Linked DNA regions of Homo sapiens. The protein of the gene in region 1 purifies or fractionates together with the protein of each later gene. This does not show direct contact. Each region holds a gene or a part of one and is shown on either strand. Other genes may lie near its edges. The genes, in order: PARVG, LIMS1, AARSD1 and RSU1.

The links.
Region 2: the proteins of PARVG (region 1) and LIMS1 purify together in Homo sapiens (affinity purification with mass spectrometry; 4 studies listed by BioGRID and IntAct, with this or other methods). This does not show direct contact.
Region 3: the proteins of PARVG (region 1) and AARSD1 purify together in Homo sapiens (affinity purification with mass spectrometry, with the first as the bait; 3 studies listed by BioGRID). This does not show direct contact.
Region 4: the proteins of PARVG (region 1) and RSU1 purify together in Homo sapiens (affinity purification with mass spectrometry; 4 studies listed by BioGRID and IntAct, with this or other methods). This does not show direct contact.

Annotation. Positions count from the first base shown.
Region 1 is NC_000022.11:44,190,924-44,197,947, reverse strand, and holds part of PARVG (gamma-parvin), read right to left. Parts: intron 5,900-7,024; coding exon 5,844-5,899; intron 4,148-5,843; coding exon 4,125-4,147; intron 1,794-4,124; coding exon 1,735-1,793; intron 1,602-1,734; coding exon 1,533-1,601; intron 1-1,532. UniProt on the Homo sapiens protein: Plays a role with ILK in promoting the cell adhesion and spreading of leukocytes.
Region 2 is NC_000002.12:108,670,460-108,677,483, reverse strand, and holds part of LIMS1 (LIM and senescent cell antigen-like-containing domain protein 1), read right to left. Parts: intron 6,704-7,024; coding exon 6,637-6,703; intron 5,160-6,636; coding exon 5,039-5,159; intron 4,605-5,038; coding exon 4,455-4,604; intron 1,607-4,454; coding exon 1,456-1,606; intron 879-1,455; coding exon 786-878; intron 690-785; exon of another isoform or gene 554-689; intron 171-553; exon of another isoform or gene 1-170. UniProt on the Homo sapiens protein: Within the IPP (ILK-PINCH-PARVIN) complex, binds to F-actin, promoting F-actin bundling, a process required to generate force for actin cytoskeleton reorganization and subsequent dynamic cell adhesion events such as cell spreading and migration.
Region 3 is NC_000017.11:42,961,434-42,969,213, forward strand, and holds the start of AARSD1 (alanyl-tRNA editing protein Aarsd1), read right to left. Parts: upstream 3,022-7,780; 5' UTR 3,008-3,021; coding exon 2,969-3,007; intron 2,805-2,968; coding exon 2,673-2,804; intron 1-2,672. Other genes in the region: PTGES3L-AARSD1 protein, read right to left, coding at 2,673-2,804; putative protein PTGES3L, read right to left, coding at 7,715-7,753. UniProt on the Homo sapiens protein: Functions in trans to edit the amino acid moiety from incorrectly charged tRNA(Ala).
Region 4 is NC_000010.11:16,751,414-16,758,437, forward strand, and holds part of RSU1 (ras suppressor protein 1), read right to left. Parts: intron 3,577-7,024; coding exon 3,458-3,576; intron 1,588-3,457; coding exon 1,505-1,587; intron 1,241-1,504; coding exon 1,126-1,240; intron 1-1,125. UniProt on the Homo sapiens protein: Potentially plays a role in the Ras signal transduction pathway. Capable of suppressing v-Ras transformation in vitro.

The DNA.
Region 1 (7,024 bases):
CACATGCCATGAGTCTCTGAAACCCATTATTTTACCAAGGGAGAGATACAGATAGAACAGGTAGAATGTAAATCTCAGAAATCATCCTGTTTATACCCACATAAAATATAATAAAACTACAAATCTCTCACTTATTTCATGCCGGCAGCGTGCCAGGTAATATACCAAACACGTGGGGCTCACCAGCTCATGTATCACTCACAATTCTACCAAGTTGCTATCTTGTACCCACTTTATAAGAAGAAGAGCCTGAGGTTCAGAGAAGTCCAGTAACTCACCCAAGGTCACACAGCAAATGTGGAGGGTTCTCAGCAGACCCCAGGGCCCATAAGTGGTGGAGGCAGGAGGGAAATGTGTGTCTGTCTGGCTACAGAGCGTGATACTTCCACCCTGCCATGCTGCCACACCATATCACACACAAACTTCTCACGTGGCCACCATGTGAGGTGGTTATAAGCACTAACTCTGGCCCCAGCTGCCTGGGTTCAAATCCCAGGTCCACTACTTATCACTGTGTGACTTTAGACAAGTTAATTAACCTCTCTGTGCCTTAACATCCTCCTCTGTAAGTGGGGTAGTACAGTTCCCACTTCAGAGGATTATGGAGAGGATTCAATGAGTTAACATGGAAAGCATTTTGCCCTGGGACTGGCACATAGTGAGGGCTTTATTGGTTTTAGCTACTAGGCATGGGAGTACATTAACCCCTCCCTCCCCAGCCAATGCCCATCCAGAGTCTCTCTGAGAGGTCAGCAGCTCTGGCTACGATCTTCATGAGCCAACTGGTCCATCTGGGACCAGACTCCCTCCCCACCCCAGACCCCAGCACCCAGCAGAACCCAGGTGGCCAGATGCCTACGTCATGTCCCATTCAGGCCACTGGCATCCAGCAGACTCCATGCCCACTCTGCAGGCCCCGGGCTGGCAGCCGGTCTGCTACTGTGCACCCCCTGCTCCCCTGCAGTGTGGGAAGCCTACAGGGACACAGCTTCACTGTGGAAAGCCACAGCCCATGGTGGGTGCTGACCCCCTGAGATTCTGCTCCTGCTCCTGGGAAAATTCGACTTAAGTCAGCCGGGGGAGGGGCTGGGCTCCTCAGGGTGCTTGTGAGAGACATGGAGCCTGCAGACGGCTGGGCTGCGCTGTCACCTACGCCTGGCACATGGGACAAATCTAATAAATTCTGTTTGGGCGAACACAACCACGCAGGGAAGACTCATATGCTTCAAGTCTTGGCATCAGCTAGTCTGAGATTAATTATAAAATAAAATTATAACAATGAGAAGCAGTGACAGCCGAGGTGACTCCAGCTTTGTGAAGTGTTCCCACACCTCCACCCCCGGGATCCCACCATGTCCCTGGTGACCACTGCTGCCTGCCAGCAACAGTCCCACCGGGGAGGGGGACCCTAAGGCTCCAAGAGGTGATGCAACCCCCACCACACAGCAGGTTCCCAGGGCCTGCAGAACCCTCTTTCCTTCCTACGGCCAGTGGCCCTGCCCTGCCTGGGGACGCCGCAGCTCAGTCCCTACCTGGGTGTCCAGATTCTGCACAGACAGGCCCAGGCGGTCCAGCTTCTGGTTGACAAAGTTCACGATGGCCTAACCAGGGAAGAACAAGGGCCTAGCACACAGCAGGTGTGATGGGAGGACCCGTGATTCCCTCCTACAGCGCAGGTGGGCAGTGGGTGGGGTGGGCAGCCTGAGAGCCGCTGAGAGCTTTGATCTCTCCTACCTCTTTCACTGCGTTCACTTTCTCCGGAGCCAGCTTAAATAATTCATCAAAGACGTCCTCTGCAGACACAGATCCAATAAACACCTCATTACGATGCTATTATCTTTGTGCCAAACAGGGAATTTTTTTTTTCACAAAAGTTTCTTAGAATAACCAGTCCAGAGGGAGCTGTCGTTTTACATCATGGTTCTCAAATAAAACAGACCTGGATTTGAGTCACTGCTCTCCTGGCCGTGTGGCCCCAGGGGAGTCACCGTCTCTCTCTGTGCCTCCCTAGCTGGGGTTGTTGCAGAGATGGAATTCCATAGCAGATAACACACATGGCCCCATGGCACAGTGACTGGGCACACAGTAGGACTTCATAAACAGCCACTCTTCCTGCAGCTGACACCTGTTACTACATCTGCACAGCTGCATCCCTTTATCTGCCAGCTGGCACTCCCTCCTCCCAGGGCCCTACTCCACTCCCCAGGGCCACGGGAGCTGCCACAGGTGGGTGATCAGGGTCCATGAGTCTCCTCCCCTTGGTTTTAAATTGGCTGAGTGAGGACTGCTCCCTGCTGCCTCCCCCCGCCCCCAAGAGTGTCTGAACCTGCTGCCTGCAAAAGGCCAGCTCTTCAGCAACTCAGTCACTCCCTTGGGGTCTGGGAACAGCGGCTCAGGCCCTGGGGTCCAGCCTCGGGTGCCCATGTCCTCAGGCTAATGCCCTTTGTGCACTAGCTGGATTCCTGCTATTTGCAGCTAACATACCTCCCATGGGGACACTGGTCCTTGGGCACCAAATACACAGACTGGCCTGAGTTTGCTGTGGCTTCTGCCACTCAGCAGCTGTGTGACTCTAAGCAAGTCACAGCACCTCTCTCTGTTTCAGTTCCCTTGTTAGTGAAGGGGGAAAAGTAGCACCAAATAGCATCATGCACGTTAAAATGCCCCTGCTCTGTGTCCTTTCTTCACCCTCTGACACCCACTTCTCATGCTGCCCCCTGCCCAAAATACTGCTCCCTGGGCAACCCCTCATGTCCTCAGGCTGCCCCTCCTGCTACATACACAGATCCTCAGCCAGCCCTCCTTGCCCCTCCTTTCTCCTTTCTCCCCAAACTCCGCCTTCCTCAGCCCCCATTCTCAGAAGCTCCTGGCAGGTTATTATCTCTACCTCTGCAGGGAAGGTGCCCCTCATAGCATCCCTGCCCACATAGCTATGTGTCTAAGTGGGGAGGGTATAGGGAGGAAAAATAGTGTTAGGATGGATGGATATGGGTGAATACATAGGTGGTTGGATGGGTAGATAGATGAATGGGTGGATGAATAGGTGGGTAGGTGGATAGATGAATGGATGGATGGATAGGTGTGTGGGTGGATGGATGGATAGATGGATGGATGGATGGATGAATATATGGATAGGTGGGTGTATGGATGGATGGATGGATAGATGATGGATGGGTAGGCGGATGGATGAATGGAAGCATGAATGGATGGATGGAGGGATGGATGGATGGATGAATGCGTGGATAGGTGGGTGGGTGGATGGATGGATGGATGGATGGATAGGTTGATGGATGGATAGGTGGATGGATGGATGGACAGGTGATGGATGGGTAGGTGGATGGATGAATGGAGGCATGAATGGATGGATGGAGGGATGGATAAATGGATGGGTGGGTGGATAGATGAATGGAAGAATGGGTTGATGGATGCATGGGTGTATGAATGGATGGATGGATAGGTGGGTGGGTGGATAAGTGGGTAAGTAGATAGATGAATGGAAGAAAGGATGGATCAATAGATGGATAAATAGATTAATGGATGGGAAGGGGAAGAGCTGGCCAGACCAGTGACAAAGGAATGGATGCATGAAAGAAGTAACAACTAGAACAATCAACTGATTGGTGAACAGCTCTGTCAGAAGAGCAGAAGCCACATTATTGCCCACTCACTATTGAGCACTGCCCACATGCTGAACACACTCATACATTATCTCCTTTAACCCTCACTGCCAGTTTAAAAGGTGAGTGCCCTTTTATAGATGAGGAAACTGAGGCACGGACAAGTTAAGATACTTGCCCAAACTTAAGTGGCTAATGAGTGGGAACACTGGTGTTTGAACCCAGGCCACTGACTCCAGAGCCCACACATTTAACAGACTCCACCATCACTGCCCATGTGAATTATAAATCTCTCTCCCCACAGGAACAGTATCATGAGAAGGAGCAGCCAGCTCCATGGATGGACAGACAGAAAGAGGGACAAATGAATAAGAATGAGGCTTGAGATACAAACAGCAAGTGACAGGGAAATGAGAGAATGCTCAGCAATTAACCCTGCATTAAGACTTGTCTGCATTAACACGCATCAGATAGGAACAGATTTCCAAAAATGATGAAAGTACTCACTTGGAGGCTCGTCCTTGTCTGTGCTGTGCAGTGGGTGGAAAAAGCAAACAAATGGTTAAAAAAAAAACACCCCGCAAACCTACAATTTCTCAATATGACAAGCCTCAGTGCTGGCAAGGTTGCAAAGAAACTGGCATGCTTGTGGTTTTCCTGGCAGCTTTGTAGGTAGGGCAGATAGCAGAGAAGGTCTTTGTGGGAAGCAAAGGGCAGAAACAGGTTCATGCCCTTCCCTGAGGCTTCCACACCTAGAAACATTTGGACTTTGCTGGTTTTGTTGTTCGTGTTCTGTTCTGAGGGAGATACATCACACACATCATAAAGTGCACAAATCGTAAGCTCACAGCTTGTGCGTTTTACACATACACACCTGTGTGATCACCCCCACTTACATGCTGCAGAACCTCCCAGCACCCCCCGTGTTCTCCCTTCCATCCTCTCCCTCCCTACGCTGACCACAGCTGCGATTTCTCTTGCCATCTGTTGGTTTTGCCTGTCCTGGAAGTTCATGGAAATGAAACCATACTGCGTGTCCTCTTTTGGGTCTGGCTTCTTTCACTCCATTTTTATTGTTTTTGAACAATTTTTCTTCTTCTTTTTTTTTTGGTCACGTTTTTAGATCCACCTCTACCCCATAGAAGAGAAGTTCTGTAGGTCCAGGGCAGGCCAAGTCTCTCTAACCACAGCCCTCCAGAAGAAAGCTGGGGCCCACGGGGCAGAGCCCAGCAGCCTGTGACAGAGACCTGGGCTCAGCACAGAGGCCAAGGCTGCCAGGAGAGACAGACACCATGTGCTGTCCACACAGCTCCAGCCCCAGCCAAGCCTTCAGAGGATGGCAGCCCCACCTGGCCAGCATCTTGGCTGCATCCCTGTGAGAGATCGTGAGTTAGCGCCACACAGAAGCCAGCAACGGTGGACCTGTTGGCAGCCTGTGCAGCCCCTGGGCCCATCCCTCTCCAGGCCCCACCTGTTCTGCTCCATGGGGAGCAGGACAGCCATGCTCCCAGTGGGCGGGGAGCAAGATGGCCAGCCCTAGTGGGTGGGGAACAGTATGGCCAGCCCCAGTGGGCAGGGAGCAGGATGGCCACACCCCCGGTGGGCAGGGAGCAGTATGGCCAGCCCCAGTGGGCAGGGAGCAGGATGGTCAACCCCAGTAGGTGGGGAGCAGGTGGCCATGCCCAGTGGGCAGGAGGTAGGATGGCCACTCCCCAGAGGGCAGGGAACAGGATGGCCATGCCCCAGTGGGCAGGGAGCAGGATGGCCACACCCCCCAGTGGGTGGGGAGTAAGACAGCCACACCCCCAAAGTGGGCGGGGAACAAGACAGTCACACCCTAAAGTGGGCAGGCAGCAAGACGGCCAGCCCCTGGCCATGCAGGGGCCTCTAACTCTTACAGCTTTGCAAGGAAAGAGGAACATCCTGCTCACACTAGAGAGACAGATTCACTGGGCCCTGTACCCCAAACCCAGGGGCCCCCACCCTAGAAAACAAAGCAGGGTGGCTGGGAGGGGCCAGGCAGGGACCTGGTTGGAGGCTAGAAAGGGGTCCTGTGTGCTGCCGTGGGATTGAGAGGTCAGCGCAGCATTTTCGGGTCTGAGAGAAAGCCACAGAATGTGAGGGCCCTTCCCACAAAGGTCAGGCAGATCTGCCCTGGCCCCCACCCTGCCCCCATCCACCGCTGTGAGCCCCAGCCCCACCCATGGGCCCTCATCCTTCCCTCACCTGTATTCAGTGAGCTGTTCCACCAACTTCTCTGACTTCAGACCACTTTTGGTGCTCTAAGAAAAATAAAGGGGGAAGAAATTAAATAATCCAGAAAACTCTGGGGCCCAAAGAAGCCCCAGTGATCCGTTTGCTCTGTATCATCCCTCCTCAGGACAGCCTCTGGCTTAATTGTCTTTCTTCCCCAGGAGTCTTGAGGTTGGGGATGTGTCTGCCTCACTCCCCAAGGCATCCCCAGAGTCTCACAGTGGGAGGAGGGCAGTATCAATGAGCATGTGACTATGAACAAATGAATGGTGAAGGAGTGAATCAATGAAGTCACTTCTGATTTATGTTGGCAGTATAGACCAAGCCACACAACTGCTTGGTAGGGAATTATAATCAATGGTTTTAAAAAACAGTAGAAAGCCGGGTGTGGTGGCTCACGCCTGTAATCCCAGCACTTTAGGAGACTAAGACAGGTGGATGGCTTGAGCTCAGGAGTTCAAGACCAGCCTGGGCAACACGGTGAAACCCCATCTCTGCCAAAAATACAAAAAATTAGCCAGGCACAGTGTCTCAAATCTGTAGTCCCAGCTACTTGGGAGGCTGAGGTGGGAGGATCACTTGAGCTGGAGAGGCAGAAGTTGCAGTGAGCCAAGATTGTACCACTGCATTCCAGCCTGAGCAATAGAGCAAGACGCCATCTCAAAAAAAAAAAAAAAAAAAAAAAAAAATAGAAATGACTCTGACTGGGTGTGGCCAAACTTGGCTTATTCTCTTGGGGCGAGTCAGAGGCAAGCCCTCACACACAAAGCCCCTATGCATGAGGGACCCGAGGCTGGGGTGGGGTGGGGGCGGTCATGAGAAGCAAAGAGCTGGTGGGGCCCCCTATTGTGATGCTCAGAGTCTGTCTGGAGAGGGAAGTCGTGGATTCCTGGGTATTAACCGCAGCACAGGCAGGCCGCATGCTAGACAGAACATCTGAGGGTGGGGAAACCCGGCAAGGTTCCTAGAAAGAGAACAGGGCACTGTCACAGCCATCGGTAATCTCACAGGAGACAGTACCCTCATGGTGAGAGCATTGGTTTTGCTCAGGGCGTGAAGGCTCCCCGTGGCAATGAACGGACGGCCACGCATGGCTCAGGGATATGGCCTGACAGCCCCTGGCCTCAGCCTCTGCCAGCCAGATGCCCTCTGCT
Region 2 (7,024 bases), on another chromosome or scaffold:
AGGAAATTGTAATTCACAGTGATGTTATCAGCCAGCACCATGCCTGGGAGATCACCAGGGCAGGAGAGGTATAAAATGCTCCAGGGGCAAGGTTCTGAGAAGATGCCCTGCCACTGTATGAGGCCACAACCTGCTGTGTATAACCTCATCTAAGCACAGAGAAGCACCAGGTGAACCCAAGTGGAAAGTAGTCTATTAAAAAGGGGTTAGGGGCCCTCTGCATCCCTCCAAAATGTCAATGTCATCAAAAATTTTAAAAGACTCTGGAAACGTTCCAGATTTAAGAAGGCTAAAGAAACATCACAGCCAGAGGCTGGGTCCAGTCTGGGAGTGGAAAAAATGCTGTGAGGATATTGACTCAAGTGACAAAACTGGAATAAATGGTTAGAGTACGGTATCAATATTGATAACTACAATTATGTTAGAGAGTCCCATATTCTTGGGAAATATACACTGAAGTATTTAGGGATAAAGGAGTATGATGAACTTATTGGCAAAACAGCCATCGTACTTGTATATAATATTTACGTAACTATGTGTTTTACACAGGAAGACTGAGCTTGGGAAATGATAAAGCAAACTGTGGACTTGAATGAAAGACATACAGGTATTCTTTGTATATTTTATAGTTAGCTTCTGAGTCTGAAATTATTTCCCAAATAAAAAGTTAAAAACAAATCTCTACTGAACAATGTACATCTTCCAAGAGATTTCCTTGTAGCTAAACTACTGATAAGCTTAGGTTCATAAAAGTCTATCTAGCATCCAGTGACTAAGGTCAATACCTGGTTATAGTGAGTTTCACAATATGCCAGGCCTTTCCTCTCATAATGGCGATGTCCAAGAAAGGGTTTCTCACACTTGGCACAAACAAAATGCTGAAAAAAAATTGCTATAGGTCATTTTTGAATTGCCATATTTTATATCTAATAAAGTAAATACCAGAGTTAACCTATTTTCAGAGAAGATGAAGGAAAGTTTGAGACAGTCATTTCATTTGGCCATAGGTGGCCCCATAATATAATACTTCTGCAGTTGTAATTCAGGTGTCTGTCTTTGAAGGTTACTTTAAGACATAGCCTATTATAATAGCCCAAAAAGAGAATAGAGGTGAGCATCTCAGTAGCACCTATAAAGGAGGAGCTGCTGCTGGATACAGACCATGGCACTTCCTGCTTCAAGAAGGCTTTAGGAGCAAAAGTACACATCCTGTATCATTACTGAGACATTCACAAAAGCAGTGTACATTATATATTCTTAGCTGTCAGCAAAGTCAATTGTCTTTAAAATGTCCACGTTTAATCTTTAGAGTCTCCTAATCTTGCCAGGACACCTGAATCATGAAGATTTGAAAGTACTGGTTACCCCTGAATCATGGGAGATCTGAAAGTATTGGTTACCCCTTAATCATGGAGATTTGAAAGGATTGGTTACCCTTTGCCATTTAGAACTCACCTCCACATGCCACTGCTTGCCCATAGCGTTCACCACGCGCCCTTCGATGGGCCGTCGGCAAGCACCACAGATGGGGACCCCCATTTTATCATGGCATGGGAGGCAGTATAGCTCCCCTTTCAGCTCCCGTGCATCGGCAGTCAGCTCCTTCCTGTCCGTGAGAAAGACACACAGCTTAATACTAAGAGAGAAAAGTGGCCAACCAATGGGGCTAGCACACTTTTTAGAAGGTTTTTAAAGACATTACTATGACAATCCCTGCAAATTTCTTTTTTCCCCTTTAGAGGTGATCAGAATAACCTGAATTAATAGGCCTGAACAGGTTTCAGACTCCTACCAAAACATCTGTATCTTAAAAGGATAAGATGCAAGACTAGGTCAGATACATACCACCACACCAGTCATATTCATAATTTCCTTCTTATATTATCACATTACATTTTAGTCCATTTGTCTTCCTCTAAAAGCTACAGGGAATAATCACAGTGCTGAGGGTAGACTCAGTAATACTATCTGCTATGGTGTGACTGTGTCCCCAAAGTTCATGATCCCCAATTCTGAGGTGTTGAGAGGTAGGACCTCTAAGGGGTGATTACATCATGAAGGCTCTGCCCTCACAGATGGATTAACGCTGTTACTGAGGGGGTGGGTTCCTTATAAAAGGACGAGTTCAGCCTCCTTCCTTCTCTTCCTTCCCCCCTCCTCTTCCCCCACCATGTGATGCCCTCTGCTATGTAATGATGCAGAAGAAGGTCCTCACCAGATGCCAGCCCCTTGATCTTGGACTTCCCAGCCTCCAGAACCATGAGCCAAATAAACTTCTGTTGGTTACAAATTACCCAGTTTGTGGTATTCTGTTACAGGCGCATAAAATAGACTAACACACGACCTTTCCAAGCAAACTGAGAAGTTGGGAGACTAGTTCCATTTACTAACAATTATTTAAATTGTCACAAGCTGTTGAAAATAGTTATAGGTTAATAGGTTTATTTTCATAAACAACAAAATGCCCAGAATTTTCCTTCTCCAAATACTCAAATTAAATATTATTTTCAGTCTCCTGCATCAATAAACATTTGGTCAGAGATGGTCCCAATTAGTCAAACGGACTTGTTTGAATTTCATCCCTTTTATGTAATTCTCTAGGAGAGATGCTAATGAAAAGTGGACAGAGGTGAATCCCCAAGAGGAAGGACAGGCAAGAAAACGAGATAAGGCACAAACTGATAATTCAATCACAAAAGATGAGATGGCTGAACTTATACAACCAAACTGTTTTCTTTCTTTCTCTTTTTTTTTTTTTTTTTTTGAGACGAGTCTTGCTTTGCTGCCCAGGCTGGAGTGCAGTGGCGCGATCCACACTCACTGCAAGCTCCACCTCCCAGGTTCATGCCATTCTCCTGCCTCAGCCTCCCGAGTAGCTGGGACTACAGGCACCCACCACCACGCCTGGCTAATTTTTTTATTCTTAGTAGAGATGGGGTTTCACCATGTTAGCCAGGATGGTCTCGATCTCCTGACCTCGTGATCCACCCGCCTCGGCCTCCCAAAGTGCTGGGATTACAGGCGTGTGCCACTGCACCTGGCCCAAACTGTTTTCTTAGTATTTGGCTTACTGTTTCTTCTCCATCCCTACTATAATTTAGCAAGTAAGTTCACATTAACTACAGTAAAGAATATTTTTTTATTTTTATTTTTTGAGATGGAGTCACGCTCTGTCTCCCAGGTTCGAGTGCAGTGGTGCGATCTCAGCTCACTGCAACCTCCGCCTTCCGGGTTCCTGCCATTCTCCTGCCTCAGCCTTCCAAGTAGCTGGGACTATAGGCACCCGCCACCGTGCCCGGCTAATTTTTTTTGTATTTTTTAGTAGAGACGGGGTTTCACCGTGTTAGCCAGGATGGTCTTGATCTCCTGACCTCGTGATCTGCCCGCCTCGGCCTCCCAAAGTGCTGGGATTACAGGTGTGAGCCACCACGCCCGGCCAAGAATCTTTATCCACTAAATTTTTATACTAGGCAGCAAACTGAGAAAAATTCATAGCCCAACAATTTATCATAACTTATTGAAGACAAAAAATTAAATATATTTCTTTTAGATATAAACCAAGCCAAATTAAATAAATGTAACAACATCTTTTAAGATAATACCTAATTATTACAACTGTAAAAGTTATGCATGTACAGAGATAAGACCTTTTTTTGTTTTTAGATCTTCGATTGGAAAAACATAGTGATGACAAATATTTCTGGGGCTACTGGGAATATTTTTAATATGGACTGATAGTTGATATTATAAGATTATTGCTAATTTTCTTAGGCATAATAAGAGTATTGTGGTTCTGGCCAGGTGCAGTGGCTCATGCCTATAGTCCCAGCACTTTGGAAGGCTGAGATGAGTAGATTGCTTGAGCCCAGGAGTTTGAGACCAGCCTGGGCAACGCAGCAAGGCTCCATCTCTACAAAAAATTTAAAAAAATTAGTCAGGAAGGGTGGTGTGTGCCTGTGGTCTCAGCTACTCTGGAGGCTGAAGTGGGAGGACTGCTTGAGCCCAGGAGGGTGAGGCTGCAGTGAGCTCTGATTGCCCACTGCACTTCAGCCTGGGCAATAGAGCGAGAGAGACCCTGTCTCAAGGCAAAAAAAAATTTACAAAAAGTATCGTGGTTCCATAGGAAAATGCTCTTATTCTCAGGAGACGCATACTGGGACTCATGAGAAATTTTAGAGGTATGCGTATACAGGCACACGTGCACACATACATAGGAGGGTGAAACGAGAATGTGGACTGTATACACACAAGCATGGCAAAATGTCAACTGGTGAAACGAAATTAAGTGTATACAGGTTTCATTATATCATTCTCTTGACTCGTCTATAGGTTTAAAATTTTCTAGACTAAAAATTGGAGAAAAACAATTTGGTTTGCTAGAGTAACAGAAATATAGATAAATGTAATCTTTCATTCCCACTGCTTGTGTAATAAAAAAGAAACAATTCCAGTACCCGCAGTTGGCGCAGTTGAAATGGTCTGGATGGTAGGGGTCGTTCTTGAATATCAGAGGCTGCTCATCGATGATAGCATGGCATTTCTGGCAGATGTATTTCCCAAGGCCTCTGGCTTTCTCACGATTATGACAGGGGCGACACAGGTGTCTAAACAGAGTCAAAACTTAAATTTAAAATTTTAGGTTCTTTCTAATGGTTAAAAAGAAATATGCTTCCCTTATCTCTGAAAAGAAATTAAACAAACCATTTCTTAAAAAAATCACTCCTGTGCTTCACGGGGCAGAATCAAGCCACATGAAAAATGTGTTCCAACCCTAATATGACTGATTTTTAAGAAACTCCATCTAGGTACATCCCCCATTGGTAGTTCAGCCATGCATGGAGCAGTTATGCCCTGTGAACAGCAACACAAGGGTCCACTCCCAGCAGCAGCACTCAGTCAACACACTGCAGTGTCTGAGTTCCCATGCCCTCAATTCAGTGTCCTACAGAACTGCCTTACATCCCACATGGAGAATACACATGATCTTGTCACAGTCACATTGTCCACCCACATCTGACAAGGATGAAAATCCACCTACCTCCCAGCATTCTTGACAAACCCGATATCTGCCAGAACTTCCTGGCAGAGGTCACAGCGGAAGCACTCCGGATGCCAGCTGTTATTCATGGCTTTGATAACTCGGCCAATGATGAATTCACCTGTGGGAAAGCAACACACAAAGGATGTTACTAAGTAACATCCTAAGTAACAGGCATGGCACTTTATTTACTGAGAGAGTAATTAAGGAAAAACAATGAGGAAAAAAACCGTTGAAGCCTTTCTCAATAGAGGAACTTTTTTTTTTTTTTTTTTTTTTTGAGACAGTTTCGCTCTTGTTGTCCAGGCTGGAGTGCAATGGCACCATCTCGACTCACTGCAACCTCTGCCTCCCGGGTTCAAGCGATTCTCCTGCCTCAGCCTCCCAAGTAGCTGGGATTACAGGCTCCTGCCACCACGCCCGGCTATTTTGTATTTTCAGTAGAGACGGGGTTTCTCCATGTTGGTCGAATTCCCGACCTCAGGTGATCCGCCCGTCTTGGCCTCCCAAAGTGCTAGGATTATAGGCGTGAGCCACCACACGTGGCCAGTAGAAGAACTTTTTATGTGTCTACCAGAGTAAGCACATTAGCAAAAAAGTTTTATTTCATCTGAATTTTTGTTTTTGATTCAACAGCCACATTTTTGGGCTGTTTTGTGTCATCTCTGAATCTAGCTTTCCTGTCCAAACGAGCTACTAGGCTCTCTTGAATGCCTTTTGGTTATTTCTGGTCATTGTCAACATAGACAACTGAAATCTACAGCACAGTTTCTTATAACCCATACTTAATTTATTCTTTCATTAAACCTTTAGAACATTCTACCCAGTTTCTTCAATCTCTGGAAACCCGGCAGAGGTATTAGCAACCAGTGAAGTGGCCAACGTGCAAGCAAGTCCATCACTTATGCGCCGTGCAAGCAATGTTTAAGCATCCCTAAGCTTCTGAAGCACCTCACTGATTTCTTCCCTGCCTCTTTCTGGGCAAAACCAAAAGCAAGTTGGTAAAGGTTGTGTTAACACAGGAAAAGAACACTCCCAAACGCCACCCGATAGGAGTCCTAGTTCATCCCAAAATACCTCTACCTTAAATGTCCTTAAAAATCAATGATCTCTAGGTTTTGATACTCCTCCAGCTTGTTCTATGTTAACAATAGGGAAGAGGAGTGATGAAGTATCCAACAGTTATTCATAATGAGCACTAAAAACCATTTTTACCATCGATACTTCACCAGTGTGAAATGACTGAAGTAATGTGGAAACTTACTTTTTTTCCCCGCAAGATGGAGTTTTGCTGTTGCCCAGGCTGGAGTGAAGTGGTGCAATCTCAGCTCACTGCAACCTCTGCCCCCTGGGTTCGAGCGATTCTCCTGCCTCAGCCTCTTGAATAACTGGGATTACTGGCACCTGCCACCATGCCCAGTTAATTTTTGTATTTTTAGTAGAGACGGGGTTTCCCTACGTTGGCCAGGCTGGTCTCGAATTCCTGACCTCAGGTGATCCTCCTCCCTCCGCCTCCCAAAGTGCTAGGATTACAGGTGTGAGCCACCGCGCCTGGCCGGAAACTTACTTTTTACTTGACATTTAGCAGTAAAACTTACCACACTGATGACAGCAAGGGGCAAAGAGCATCTGAAAGTCATGTTCACAGTACTTTCTTCCTTCAAACTGAAAGAGAGGGTACCACCAACTTACAAACACGAAACAATCACAGGAGAAATATAATTATTTGATGAAGATATACAGGAAAGATGTTTCTAAACTAAGAGTTCTACTCTAAGAATTTATAACTCTACTGGGATTTTAAAAAGCAGATACTCTTTTGCACCATCCATACATCTACATGTTGGTACAGGAAAGACATATGGAATAAGTAGAGGCTAGAGTGAACAGTACACCTACAGGGACTGGTGACCTGGCCTCTGACTGTGCTGAATTGTTTTCTGGCTCAAATACCCTGCCTTTAATGAATCTGATGAAAGCTATGGA
Region 3 (7,780 bases), on another chromosome or scaffold:
ACCCAGAATCTGGGCTCCCTAAGGGAGAGGGAGAAAGCAATGCCAAGTGAAATGAGTCCACTTTGTTCCATGAGAGGATTCTCAGTCCTTTTCATTCTAAACACCTATGTGTTGTGATCTTCAGAATAACAGAATTAAAGAGATTGTAACTACAGCAACAAAAATTTTAGTAAAACCCGAAGAATCTTAATCCTCAACTCTCCTTGCCTTAGTCTAGATTCTTTTGTAGTCTCTAAAATGATCTGATTTTTCCTCCCTCCCTCCACTCCATCCTCTTGCAGTGGTATTAGAATTAGATTCAAAAATGTTCATTTAGGCTGGGCATGGTAGCTTATTCCTGTAATCCCACCACTTTGGGAGACCAAGGCAGGAGGATCGCTTGAGATCAGACTGGACAACACAGTGAGACCCCACCTCTATGAAAAATAAAAAATTAGCTGGCCATGATACTCCCTGCTACTTGGGAGGCTGAGGTGGGAGAATCACTTGAGCCCAAAAGGTTGAGACTGCAGTGTGCTATGATTGCTCCACTACACTCCAGCCTGGGTGACAGAGTGAGACACTGTCTCATTTAAAAAAAAAAAAGGGCCAGGTACAGTGGCTCACACCTGTAATCCCAGTACTTTGGAAGGCCGAGGTGGGCGGATCACAAGGTCAGGAGATCAAGACCATCCTGGCCAACATGGTGAAACCCCGTCTCTACTAAAATACAAAAAATTAACTGGGCATGGTGGTGCACACCTGTAGTCCTAGCTACTCGGGAGACTGAGGCAGGGGAATTGCTTGAACCTGGCAGACGGAGATTGCAGTAAGCCGAGATCACGCCGCTGCGCTCCAGCCTGGCAACAGAGCAAGACACCATCTCAAAAAAAAAAAAAAAAAAAGTTCATTCATTTTAAAACATTTCAAGTGCCAACTGCTTACAAAAGACTGTGCCAGCCCAAGAATACAATGTAAACAAGATATGGTACCTCATGGAACTTAAGAGTCTAGAGAACAGAGGCTGGAAAACAGACAATTGCAATATGACCTATAACATGCCATAATATGAAAAAGTATATGACGCTAGAGAACCTCAAAGGAAAGAGACCTAACAGTCTTGGGGAATCAAAAAAAGACTTCCTGAAAGAAATGCTGTCTAAAATGAGACCTTCTATGGATACTTGAGGTCACAGGTTTTCCTTCAGCAGATCAGGGAAATCTTCATACTGGGAAAATCACCATAATAATGACTGATATGAAATTGGAACTCTCTCAATACCAAGTCTACTGAACATGTTCTCTCATGTCACTTATTTGCTTAAGAACCTGAGTGGAGGCCAGGGCAGTGGCTCACACCTGTAGGCCCAGCCTTTGGGAGGCCAAGGTGGGAGGACTGTTTGAGGCCAGGAGCTCAAGATCAGCCTGGGCAATAAAGTGAGACCTCATCTCTACAAAAAAGCAGCCAAGCATGTTGGTTGTGCGCCTGTAGTCCCCACTACTGGAGAGGCTAAAACAGGAGGATTGCTTGAGCCTGGGAGTTCGAGGCTGCAGTGAGCTAGATCAGGCCACTGCACTCCAGCCTGGGTGACATAGCAAGATCCTGTCTCTTAAAAATAAAAAAGAAAGAAAATAACCTGCATGGTTCGCTGCCCACACACCTTAATACACCTTTTTTTTTTCTTTTGAGACGGAGTCTTGTTCTGTCCCCCACGCTGAAGTGCAGTGGCACAATCTTGGCTCACTGCAACTTCAGCCTCCCGGTTCAAGTGATTCTCATGCCTCAGCCTCCCGAGTAGCTGGGACTACAGGGGCCTGCCAGTATGCCTGGTTAATTTTTATATTTTTAGTAGAGACAAGGTTTCATCATGTTGGTCAGGCTACTTGGGAGGCTGAGACAGGAGAATCACTTGAACCCAGGAGGCGGAGGTTGCAGAGCTGAGATCATGCCACTGCACTTCAGCCTGATGACAGCGAGAGATTCTGTCTCAAAAAAAAAAAGAAAGAAAGAAAGAAAAGAAAAGAAAGAAAAGCCTTTCTCATAATGCCCACCTTTGGTGTTATTATCCTCCTCTTCCATCTTCACAATGTACCTCACTTGCGCTCATGTTGTACCTAGTCCTCATCACAGCACTGATAAATATGCTCTCTGCTGTACTACTGTAACCCGTCTATCTCACCTGAACTCCTTCAGGAACATCTTTTTCAGTCCCTAAAACCCGAAGCTAATTCCTTCCTTGGGGCCTTTGCACCTGCTATTCTACCTGCCTGAATACTCCCTCTGCCCCCCAGCACCACTAGATAATTGCAAAGACTCACCCCCTCACTTCGTTTAGGTCTCTACTGAAATAACTTACCCTTCATCTAGACAAGCATCCCATCACTCTCTTTCCCTTTACTTGGTTTTTGTTTATTACTTATTATACCTAGCACACACAGTTGTCTTCAATAAACATTCCACGTATATAAAGGCACTGTGTTGTTCACCGGTTATCCTTACAGCCTGGAATAATATCTAGCATATGTTATGTCTAGATAAGCAATTGCTGATAAATACTCATTAAATGAATAACAAAATGAATTAAACTAAAGCTCATCTGAATTCATTATGGCTGAGAAAAAAGGGGCAGGAGAGCATTTCGGCCTGAGCACAAAGAAACTGGGGGCTTCCTGGGAAGAGATCGTTTTGGTACCTGTCCCCCGCCCTCAGGGAAAAGCACTGTGTCTTCCAGCACCACTTGGAAACCGCTCAGCACTTCTTTCTTGCCGTTGCTCCCTTCAGTCTGCAGCTCCGCGGGACAGCAGGAGACCACGGTGGTGGTGAACTGAACAGAGAGGAATGAGAGAATAAGCCCCGACCCCAGCCCTAGCCCTAGCCCTCTCCACACCAGGACAGAATGCCATGTTGGCACTCCCTACACGTGGCGCCCTCTTCCCCAAACCGCCTTGCCGGCCCGGCAGTCTCAAGTGCCTCGCCGTGACGCCGTACCTCTCGGGCATAACTGTCACGCTGACACCAGAACGCCATACCTGCAGGCGTGTGAGGAGGCGCACGCGCAGAGAAGCCTGGGAGCGAACGGAGAGCGACGTGGGACAAACGTCATCAAGGGCGCTTGTCTGCGCAGAAGCAGGAGGGTAAGGAATGGAATGCGGTTTGGATAAATTTACTGAAAACGCGAATTGCATATTTGCTGGGTTGTTTAACGACTGTTCTAAGGCTTTACAAAGGACAAGACCAGGAGGAAAAAAACAAACAAACAAAAACAAAAAAACGCGACCTGGACAAGGCACGTGGTTTAGTGAGCCCCTTGGGGCCCCAGGGATGTAAGTATTCTGGCTGCGGAATCCCAGCGCATAGAGGCGGGGACGGGACTGGCATGGTTACTGAGCAGCACTGCCCAGTAGAAATAGAAAGCAAGGAGCTGGGGGAGGTGGCTCACGCCTGTAATCCCAGCATTTTGGGAGGTCGAGGCGGGTGGATCACCTCAGGCCAGGAGTTCGAGACCAGCCTGGCCAACATAGCGAAACTCCGTCTCTACTAAAAATACAAAAATTAGCCGGGCGTGGTGGCGGGCGCCTGTAATCCCAGCTACCCGGGAGGCTGAGGCAGGAGAATCGCTGGAACCCGGGAGGCGGGGTTGCAGTGAGCAGAGATTGCACCACTGCACTCCAGCCTGGGCGACAGAGCGAGACTCCGTCTCAATTAAAAAAAAAAAAAAAAAAAAAAAAAAAGGCCGAGCGCGGTGACTCACGCCTGTAATCCCAGCACTTTGGGAGGCCGAGGCGGGCGGATCACGAGGTCAGGATATCGAGACCATCCTGACTAACGCGGTGAAATCCCGTCTCTACTAAAAATACAAAAAATTAGCCGGGCGTGGTGGCGGACGCCTGTAGTCCCAGCTACTCCGGAGGCTGAGGCAGGAGAATGGCGTGAACCTGGGAGGCGGAGCTTGCAGTGAGCCGAGATCGCACCATTGCACTCCAGCCTGGGCGACAGAGCGAGACTCCGTCTCAAAAAAAAAAAAAAAAAAAAAAAAGAAGAACAATTTGGCCAGCGTGGCCAACATGGTGAAACCCTGTTTCTACTAAAAACACAAAAACATTAGCCAGGCGTGGTGGCACACGCCTATATAATCCCAGCTACACGGGAGGCTGAGGCAGGAGAATCACTTTAACCCGAGAGGAGGAGGTTGCAGTGAGCCGAAATCGTACCACTGCACTCCAGCCTGGGTAACCCAGCGAGACTACGTCTCAAGAAAATTACATTACATTACATTAAAATAGTTTGGGCCAGACACAGTGGCTCACATCTGTAATCCCAGCAGTTTGGGAGGCCGAGGTGCCTGGATCAGCTGAGGCCAGAAGTTCGATACCAGCCTGGCCAACATGGCAAAACCCTGTGTCTACTAAAAATACAAAAATTAGCTCGGTGTGGTGGCGGGCACCTACAGGCTGGGATTACATCCCAGCTTCTAAGGAGGCTGAAGCAGGAGAATCGCTTGAACCTGGCAGGCGGAGGTTGCCGTGAACTGAGATCGCGATACTGCACTCCAGCCTGGCTGACAAAGCGAGACTTCGTCTCAAAAAAAAAAAAAAAAAAAAAAAAAAAAAAAGCAAATTAAACCAGGTGCTAATTTTTATCTTGTCAAATATCTGAAACGATTTAGAGAATGGAACACTCTCATTGTTCGTAGGAGTGAGAATTGGTACAATTTCATCAAAGAGCAACTTGGTAACAGCTATCAAAATGTTTAAATGTATTTTATCTACTCCTTGACCTAGCAATTCTACTTCTAGAAATGTACCCTACAGATATCCTGGCAAAAATATGTAAAGATCCACATTTTTAAATGTTGATTGCAATATTGTTTGCAAATGGTAAAAGACTGCCGGACGCGGTGGCTCATGCCTGTAATCCCGGCACTTTGGGAGGCCGAGGCAGGTGGATCACCTGAGGTCAGGAGTTCTAGACCAGCCTGGCCAACGTGGTAAAACCCCGTCTCTACTAAAAATACAAAAATTAGCTGGGCCTGGTGGCAGGCGCCTGTAATCCCAGCTACTAGGGGAGCCGAGGCAAGAGAATCGCTTGAACCCGGGATGCGGAGGTTGCAGTGAGCTGAGACCACGCCGTCGCATTCCAGCCTGGGGGACAAGAGCGAGACTTCGTCTCAAAAAAAAAGAATATGGTAAAAGACTAACGACCTACGTGTCCCTCAATAAAGAACCTGTGAAATTATGAAAAATACATTCAATGGAATACCATATAGCCATGAAAAAAATGAGTTAGATCTATATGTTCTGACTTGTAAAGATCTCCAATATATATTAAATGAAAAAGGGCACAATGCAAGATGCGGATGGTATGATTCCAGTTGTGTACACACACAGACACACACAACACATCTGCTAATTAAGTTTTAACATACTGCATGTAAGTAATATATACTATATGTTTATGTTCCATGTTATATATTGTTTTGTATGTTATATAATTATACCTTAGAACTACATAGTATAAAATAAATTATAGGTATTATAGTATTTATAATGCAGTATGGGGCCAGGGATGGTGGCTCAGGCCTGTAATCCCAGCACTTTGGGAGGCCGAGGAAGGAGGCTTAAGGCCAGGAGTTTGAGAGCAGCCTGGGCAACAAGCAAATCTTTACAAAAAAATAGTTTGTCCTAAAGACAAGGTCTTTACATATATATAAAATATATATTATATAATATATAATATAATATATAAAATATATATTATATAATATATAATATAATATATAAAATATATATTATATAATATATAATATAATATATAAAATATATATTATATAATATATAATATAATATATAAAATATATATTATATAATATATAATATAATATATAAAATATATATTATATAATATATAATATAATATATAAAATATATATTATATAATATATAATATAATATATAAAATATATATTATATAATATATAATATAATATATAATATATAAATATATATGTATTTATATATGTAGATATATAATATATAAAATATATATAATATGTATCATATATAATTTATATATTATATATTTTAAATATATAATTTATATATAATATATAAAATTAATATATATAATATATATTTTATATATAAAATTAATATATAATATATATATATTTTATAGAGCGAGACGGAGTTTCGCTCTTGTTGCCCTGGCTGGAGTGCAATGGTGTGATCTCGGCTCACAGCAACCTCCACCTCCTGGATTCAAGCCATTCTCCTGCCTCAGCCTCTGAAGCAGCTGGGATTACAGGCATGAGCCACCACGCCTGACTAATTTTGTATTTTTAGTGGAGACAGGGTTTCTCCATGTTGGTCAGGCTGGTCTCGAACTCCTGACCTCAGGTGATCCACCCACCTCAGCCTCCCAAAGTGTTGGGATTACAAGCATAAGCCACCGCACCTAGCCTACAAAAATATTTTTTAACTTAGTCAGCTGTAGTGTAGTCCTAGCTACCCAGGAGGCTGAGGCAGGAGGATTACTTGAGCCCAGGAAGTCAGGGCTCCATGAATAATGAATGTACCACTGTATTCCAGCCTGGGCAACAAAGCAAGACTCTATCTCAAACATAAATAAATAAATAAAGTTTACTTTTAAAGTAAATCCTAATAGTTTACCATGAGTTCAAGAGCAAAGTCTATAGGCAATGCATTTATTTTGTTTAAGTTACAGTCAACTGTACATATTAGGCACTCAAAAAAGTTTATGGACAAATAGAATAGCTGTTGGACAAATAAACATAGACATTAACTAGAGTAACAATCAGTTTTAAAAGTATAAAGAGGGCCGGGTGTGGTGGCTCATACATGTAATCCTAGCACTTTGGGAGGCTGAGGTGGGTGGATTACTTGAGGTCAGGAGTTCGAGACCAGCCTGGCCAACATGGTGAAACCCCATCTCTGCTAAAAATACAAAAATTAGCTGGGCCTGGTGGTGCACATCTGTAGTCCCATCTACTTGGGAGGCTGAGGCAGGAGAATTGCTTGAACCCAGAAGGTGGAGGTTGCAGTGAACAGAGACTGCACCACTGCACTCCAGCCTGGGCGACAGAGCAAGACTCCATCTCGGAAAAAAAAAAAAAAAGTATAAAGAGATTTCTAGAGTGTGCAGGAAGCTGAAGTGGCTGGTTCTAGAGATGACAGAATTAGCTGTAAGAAATCAGAGCACAAATCTGGGCAAGAGGAAGCACCCCAGCTTGGTTACTAGAGGGAGAAGAGGCTTGCCACCAGGAGGAATAAGTACAAGAAGGAAACAGACAGAGAACAGTTCCTAGAGATTTATTATAATCTGTTTCTTCTTTGGCTTTTTGCTTTGCCCCATATGCACACATAGTAGAGATTTCTATAATCTGCATTCTTCTTTGGCTTTTGTTTTGCCACATACACACACATACTCAAATAATCAAGTGGCCTAAACACAGAGATTAGAAACCAATCAGTAAGAAATCAGAAGCCCTACCAGTCTACCCCTCCCCGACCCTGCATCTGATGTGGAGCCATAGTCAAGTGCCTAGGAGGAAGACAAGCTTGAAGGACGACCCTTAATAAAGAGCTTCTAGGAAAGTTCAGAGATCTCAGAAGAACTTGGTGCACAGCCAAAGCGCTGACAAAGGCCTAGGCGCTAGCTTTCTAGAACAACTGGAAAATAGCCACAGCTGCCTTCCCAGCTTTGCGTCACAGAAAGTTAATTACTTGTTGCATCATCAGCACTGTCAGAATCATCCTGGGGGCGGGGGGGAAAAAAGACAAA
Region 4 (7,024 bases), on another chromosome or scaffold:
ACGTGACTGCCTTCCCTTTAGACTAATATGGCTGCCAACAGAACTCAAGGTGCTGATAGGCGTGCTCTGTGTCTCAGTCTTCCTATGCGTAACCATTAGCCACATGAGCCTGCTCATAACCTTCCTAACGTCCTGTCATCCAAGGTCCTTGCTTCATTAATTCATTCAGTCAGTGTTTTCTGAGCACCTACTGTACCCGAGGGAACAAATACAAAAATGTCCCTGCCCTCCTGGTGATTGCATTCTAATTTCTAACAAATGGCCTCTTCAAACTGCCAAACTTGTTTAAAGAACTGCTTCCTCAATGTGTTTCTTAAAAATGATGGTATTTTGGAGTAGAAAAGCAAATAATCGCAGTTTGAGAAAACAATGTGGTTCAAAGGACTGAAGAAATGAGAGGCTATGGAGGGTCTGCACAAGAAAAGATAAGGGAACTCGTGAACCTTTTGCAGTGGAACGAAGCAGTAACAGAATTACTGGCTTGGAGGTTATTTCTGGCGGGGGACATAAACCCACCCTGGAAATAGGAACGACCTGGCAGAGAAACAGGATTAGGATTCAGCGGCCAGGAGTAGGATCCATTCCCAGCAAGAACATATTTAACAATTCCTACTAGAGATGGGATCAGGAGAGAGGCAAATTCACGACCCGCAGAGGTATCAACATGTTCAAGTAGCCATAACAACTACTTTAACTATTTGGTAAAAGTTTTTCCAGGTCAATAAAAATTTAAGGGGTTAAAAAGTAAGAGTGATACTTAAAGTTATTAATAACCAACCAAGACCCAGAAAGCTTACCCAGCTAGTCAATGAGGAGCCAGGGATAAGGCTCTTACTACTAATCCCATGCTTTTCCCACTACATCACGCAGGGAGCTGAGCGGGGTCATCTTTCATCAGCAGTTTCTAAGACAGGGGACACTACAGCTGCAGAACACAGGATCCGGGAAGGTCAAACCTGTAACAGCTAACTCTGGTCAATGACAAATGGTTCTCAAATGATCAGCATCGTGTGCCTAGGTGGAGAGTAGTTGCCAAGAAGAGGACAGAGGTTGTTCAGAATTGCTACATTAGGATAATTGTTATTCATGAAACCCAGAACTAAGTTCATTCATCAGCAACCTTACCTAGTTCTGGGGGCAGAACGGTGAGGCGGTTCCCCTGAATGTGGAGCTCTTTAAGCTGGGTAAGCTCCCCGATTTCCTTAGGCAGCGAGATCAGGTCGTTATCCCTAAGGCTGAGCTAAACAGAAGAAAACAAGTTGTCAACATATTTACACATTAAAAGGTGCTCCACAGAAACTCTCATCCTCTATGTCCTCTCTTCTACTAAAGCTCAATCCTTTCCATGTATTTACAAGTGCCGGCGGATAATCAAGAAACACTATCAGGAGTAGTGGTTTATTCCCACAAAACAAACCTTACTCCTGCTCAAATTGACTTGATTCTACCCCTACAAGGCTGCAGCAGTGAATTGATTTTCTAAGAATTTAGATAAATTACTTACTATCTGCAACTTTGTGAGCTTCCCAATATCTGGCGGCAGGATTTCAAAATCGTTGTCACTTAGATAGAGTGCACGCAGGGTGGCTGCAAATTAAACAGCAATATATAAACAGGGTGGCATGGAACACAACCATTTGAGGTCTGATCAATACGAGGGAGTCAGCTTTGATTAATAACCCTGGCTTGGTGAAAAGCCTTTGACATACCTAGGGCTCCCAATAATAACAAGCAGGTCAAACTTAGATTTACTGGCTTATTGTGTAGCTGGTGTGTCCAGGAAAACATCTATATCCAAGAGGAATGACGCAATTAACAACTGTGGGCGCCAGCATTTTGGGGCACAGAGTTTCAGCACATTTTCAGAAAAGATTGCTATACTTCTCATAGATTACTTTTGATTCACATTTATTTCTCCATTTGCATCCAAAGTAAAACAAAGAACACTACTGTGCCACTTTTATGGATACCTAGGGCAAAAGGGTTCTTTCAAGAGAATACAGCTCTGTTAAAATAGACCTTTTCCTATGTAAATAGCACTGTGTTACAAATTAATGGAAGGCTTTCTGGTGATGGAGGCTATAACCACAGCTCATCAGTTCCATAATCTGACTAATTATTACTACGTGTTTCTACAGCCTTAAGGACAAAAGTAAATGAAGACAAAGAGGCTAAAATAATGACATGAAGTTAACAGAGTAAATCCTAACTTAAGGAGAATATCAGTAGTCAGAAATTTGTTCATAATTATTACACAATGATAATACGATTCCAACCTACTGAAGGCTAAAATTCTAAAGCATCTGTTTATCTTCAACCAAAAAAGCTGAGTATAATTAGATACATGTTTTGTTTACCCGTATTTATTTTTTAGAGACAGAGTCTCGCTCTGTCACCTAGGCTGGAGTGCAGTGGGTCACTGCAGCCTCAAACTCCTGGCCTCAAGCACTCTTTCTACCTCAGCCTCCCAAGTAGCTAAGATCACAGGCTCATGCTACTATGCCTGGCTACTTTTTAAATTTTTATTTCTAGAGACAGGGTCTCTCTATGTTGCCCAGGCTGGTCTTGAACTCCTAGCCTCAAGTGATCTTTGTAGCTCATACTCCCGAGAACTGCATGTTAATATAACATAATAAAAATAGTTGCTCCACTGCCCAAGAAAATATTTTATAGTTGGTTTCATGTGCTTGAGAAAGTCATAGAAAGGTAATGTACGTAAGGTAAAAAATAAAATTTTAGAGATCAGCTCTGAAAATTCAGATTTTCTGAATGCCACACAAGTTACTATTTGAAGAAATAGAACACTGATTTAAGGGAAGCAAACCTTGTCCAAAATAGTGCATGAGTTCCCAGAAGAAATCATTTTTTAATTTTCAAAAGCATCTCCAGCAAGAAATTTGTTTGCATATGAAAGAATAAAGTGTGTTCACCTGTGGCCAATAATTTCTTAATGCCTGTGTACTGGATAAATAGGTCAATAAGAGTACTTTTTAAAAGGCTCAAAATAGGAATACTGGCTGGAAAATTTTAAAATTGTGTTACTGGTTTATTAATAAATATTTTTAATAAATAATTGGTTGGAATATCCTGGGCAAATATCCTACAAAGAATTAATAGCAACATAGGAAGATACTTTTTTTTTTTTTTTTGGCATGCTATTTAAAAAGAAAGTCAAGTCTCTTAGCTAAATGTGAGGCTTGATCTCATTTAGGTATATAATCTCTCTCAGAATGTTAATATGACATTACTAAGTCCACTTCAGCCCAATGGTGTCACATAACGATCTATCAAATGCACATACTGCTGAGCTACGAAGGAATATTCAAAAGGAGTCTCTAAAGAAAAAATTATCTCTGTCCAATAATTTCTCTTGGAGTTTGGGTCCTGGCAAATAAATTTCCCTCTCAGAACGCAAAGTACAAGGTTGAGGAGATTTATAGAATTGAAAGTTTCTTACTCAGGTAGAAGAAGTTTCCAGGAAGAGAATTTTCGCTCAAGTTGTTGTACGTCAAGTCCAGAACCTCAAGAGCTGGCAGGGAGCCGAAGCCTCGTGGCAAAGTGTTCAGCCTGTTCATGCTGTTGCAGGGGGACAAAAATCTATGTCATGACACCAAAGACACATTCATACAGACTATCAAGGGCACCTCTGTTTCAGACGCTGAAAGTGTAAGACAGTGCCATGATCCTAGAGTCACTTTATACTTTATTTTTATTTTTTATTTTTTTGAGACAGGGTCTTACTCTGTTGCCTAGGTTTTAGTGCAGAGGCATGATCTCAGCTCACTGCAGCCTCAACCTCCCCAGGCTCAAGCGATCCTTCCACTTCAGCCTCCCAAGTAACTGGGACCACAGATGCACGCCACCACGCCCTGCTAATGTTTGTATTTTTTGCAGAGATGGGGTTTTGCCATGTTGCTCAGGCTGGTCTCAAACTCCTAAGCTCAAGCAATCCTCTCACCTAGGCCTCCCAGAATGCTGGGATTACAGGCGTGAGCCCCCATGCCCATCCTTTTTTTTTTTTAATTAAAAAAAGCATTTATTTAATATTTACAATGACAAAGATTGTACATACTTATGGTGTACAACATGATACTTCTGATGTATGTATACTACATCATGGAATGGTTTAAATCATACTATTTAACACACGCGCTGCCTCATATGCTTGTCATTTTTTTTGTCTTTTGTGGTGAGACTGCTTAAAATTCACTCTCTTAGCAATTTTCAATTATACCACATATTGTTATTAACTGCAGTCACCATGATGTACAATCCATCTCTTGAACTTATTTCTCCTAACTAAAATTTCATGTCCTTTGGCTAACATCTCTGCAATTCCCCTCTCCCTCCAGCCTGTGGTAACCATTTTATTCCCTGTTTCGATGAGGTTTACTTTTTTACATTCCACATATAAGTGAGAAGGTGTGGTATGTTGTCCTATTTAGGCTAATAATTTCAGTCAGACAGCTTACATGATCTTGAAACACTTGAAAATTTCTTAGCTGTTATTTTCCTCCAACGGTGAAACTTAATCACTGCTTTACACAAAAACTCAAACCATTACAAAATATCTTTCCTTGTAAAGAACAACTTCCCTATGAACGTAGTGATAATATCTCAAAATATACACATGAAGCTTTGTAGTTTTCAGGCTTTTGCTTGATTTCATTCCATTTATTCCTTTTTTGGAGGGAAAATCATGTTTTTGTTCTACAACTGCTAACACTGAAAATTATCTTCAATTAGAATGGTGATGGCCAGGGGCTGGAGGGAGGGGGAATGGAGAGGTGTGGTTTAATGGGCGTAGGATTCAGGTTTGCAAGATGAGAAAATTCTGGGGATTGGCTGAACAACAATGTGAATACGCTTAACACCACTGAACTGTCTACTACAAAGACGGTACATTTTGTGTGCATTTTATCACAACCTAAAAAATTTTTAAATCATACAATTGACCCTTGAGCAACATGGGTTTGAACTTCCTGGGTCCAATGAGACATGGATATTTTTCTTCTACCTCTGCCACCCCTGAGACCGCAAAACCAACCCTCCGCTTCCTCCTCAGCCCACTCAACATGAAGAGGACGAAGACCTTTAAGATGATCCACTTCCACTTAAAGCACAGTAAATGCACTTTCTTTTCCTTACGACTTTCTTAATAACATTTTCTTTTCTCTAGCTTACTTTATTGTAAGAATGCAGAATAGAATACATGTAACATACAAAATATGTGTTCATCAACTATTTCTAGTTTTGGTAAGGCTTCCAGCCAACTGTAGGCTATTAGGAATTAAGATTTTTCGGAGTCAAAAGTAATGTGTGGATTTTTGACTGCATGAGTCATTGTGTTGCTCCCGCAACCCATGTGTTGCTCAAGGGTCAATTGTGTGTGAGTGTGTGTGTGGGGTGTGTGCTGTGTGTGTGTGGTATTGTGTGTGATGTTATGTGTATGTGTATCTGGGTGTTTCGTGTGGTGTGTGAGGGGTGGGGTGTGGTGTGTGAAGGACGTGGGGGGCTGTGTGGGGGCGGGTATGTGTGTGGTGTGGGGTAGGTATGAGTGTGGTGTGGTGTGTGTATAGGGTGTGTTTGGGGGTGTGGTGGTGTGTGTGTACGCAGTGTGTGTGTGGTGTGTGTGTGGGTGTGTTTGTACACGGTATGTGTGTGTGCTGTGGGTGTGGTGCGTGTGGGTATGTGTGGGTGTGCGTGTGTGTGTGTGGGCGTGTCTCCAGTGAAGTCTAAGGGAATTTTTTTCTACACTATCTTTTATCCTTTCTTCAAGCCCCTTATTTTTCTTAACGCAGTTCCCTTTGAGCATACTTAAAAGCCAATTTTTAAAAAAAAAATTTAATAAAAGTTGACAGATACTGAAAGGTGGAAGGGACTGTGACAATAAAAATCATTCTAGCCATCGATCCTTCTCCTAACACATTCAGCTCCATCCAGCCCTACCAAGAGGGCCTCACCAGAAACAGCTGACAGCAGAGGGGGCAACCAAAAGGGAAACGCGGGTTCCCCCTGTCAGGCAGAAAACTTCCCAGACAGACTACACCCAGCAAAACTACCTCCACGACTATCTACTGCCACGACAGCAAGAACAAACATTCTCCATGAAGTCACAATTTGTGAAGCACATTATGGCAAGGACTTCGCTTGTTCACTAAAACTACCTTGCAATACAGGTAAGATGGAGCTTGTCATTAATGCTATGTTGAGATGAAAAAACAGCCTAAGAGAGGGTGAGGAGCCAAGACTTCAGAAGTGACTGATGAAGGCGACATGTGTCTGGAAACACCCCATACCGCACGGAGGCCAAAGCTGCTCCAGACCCTTGGGCTCTGATACAAGGATTCTGAGAAGAATTGCAAGTCAAAGGAAGGACAGCAGAGAAGACCACACTAGGTGCTTCTGTCTTTAAACGCTGCTTTCGGTTATCTCTTTTTGAAAACTGCTGATTCCTTAACATTTTTCTCTGCAAATAAATACACTTTTGCAATATTAGGTAGAGGAAATCCACGGTTAGACAGGCTTAGAGGGAAGAGGCATCTCACCTGAGAGAGAGCTCCCACTCAATCTTCAGCCCAGAGCAAGCCTGGAGCCCCTCCACCTCCTGGTGGCAAGAATCTACTTAATTGCAGATTCCTTTTTCCTTTGAGTGACAAACCAATACCCACAACATTTAAGGAACACAGCAGAGTCCCATGTGCCGCTGACAGCAGTAAGTAACAGTGGTAGGCACACCACCCTGGCGGGCAGAAAGAAGTCCTTAAACAAATGCTAAAACTTCAGAAGAATTGCTAGCAACAGCCCCAGCTACAAAGCGGCCAAGGAACTGCAGAGACTTCTGGCCACCTCTCCGGACACCAGTCCAGGTGGATGGTGACATGGTGGGTTCTCTCTCTGCAGAATGAAGGATGGAACATGCTGGCTGTCCCCCCTCCCTCCAGCAGGTGCTAACATCCATCTCCATCCATCCACATTTTGACACATAGGAATTCCATGCTCAGGGCCCCGCTCTGACACTGCT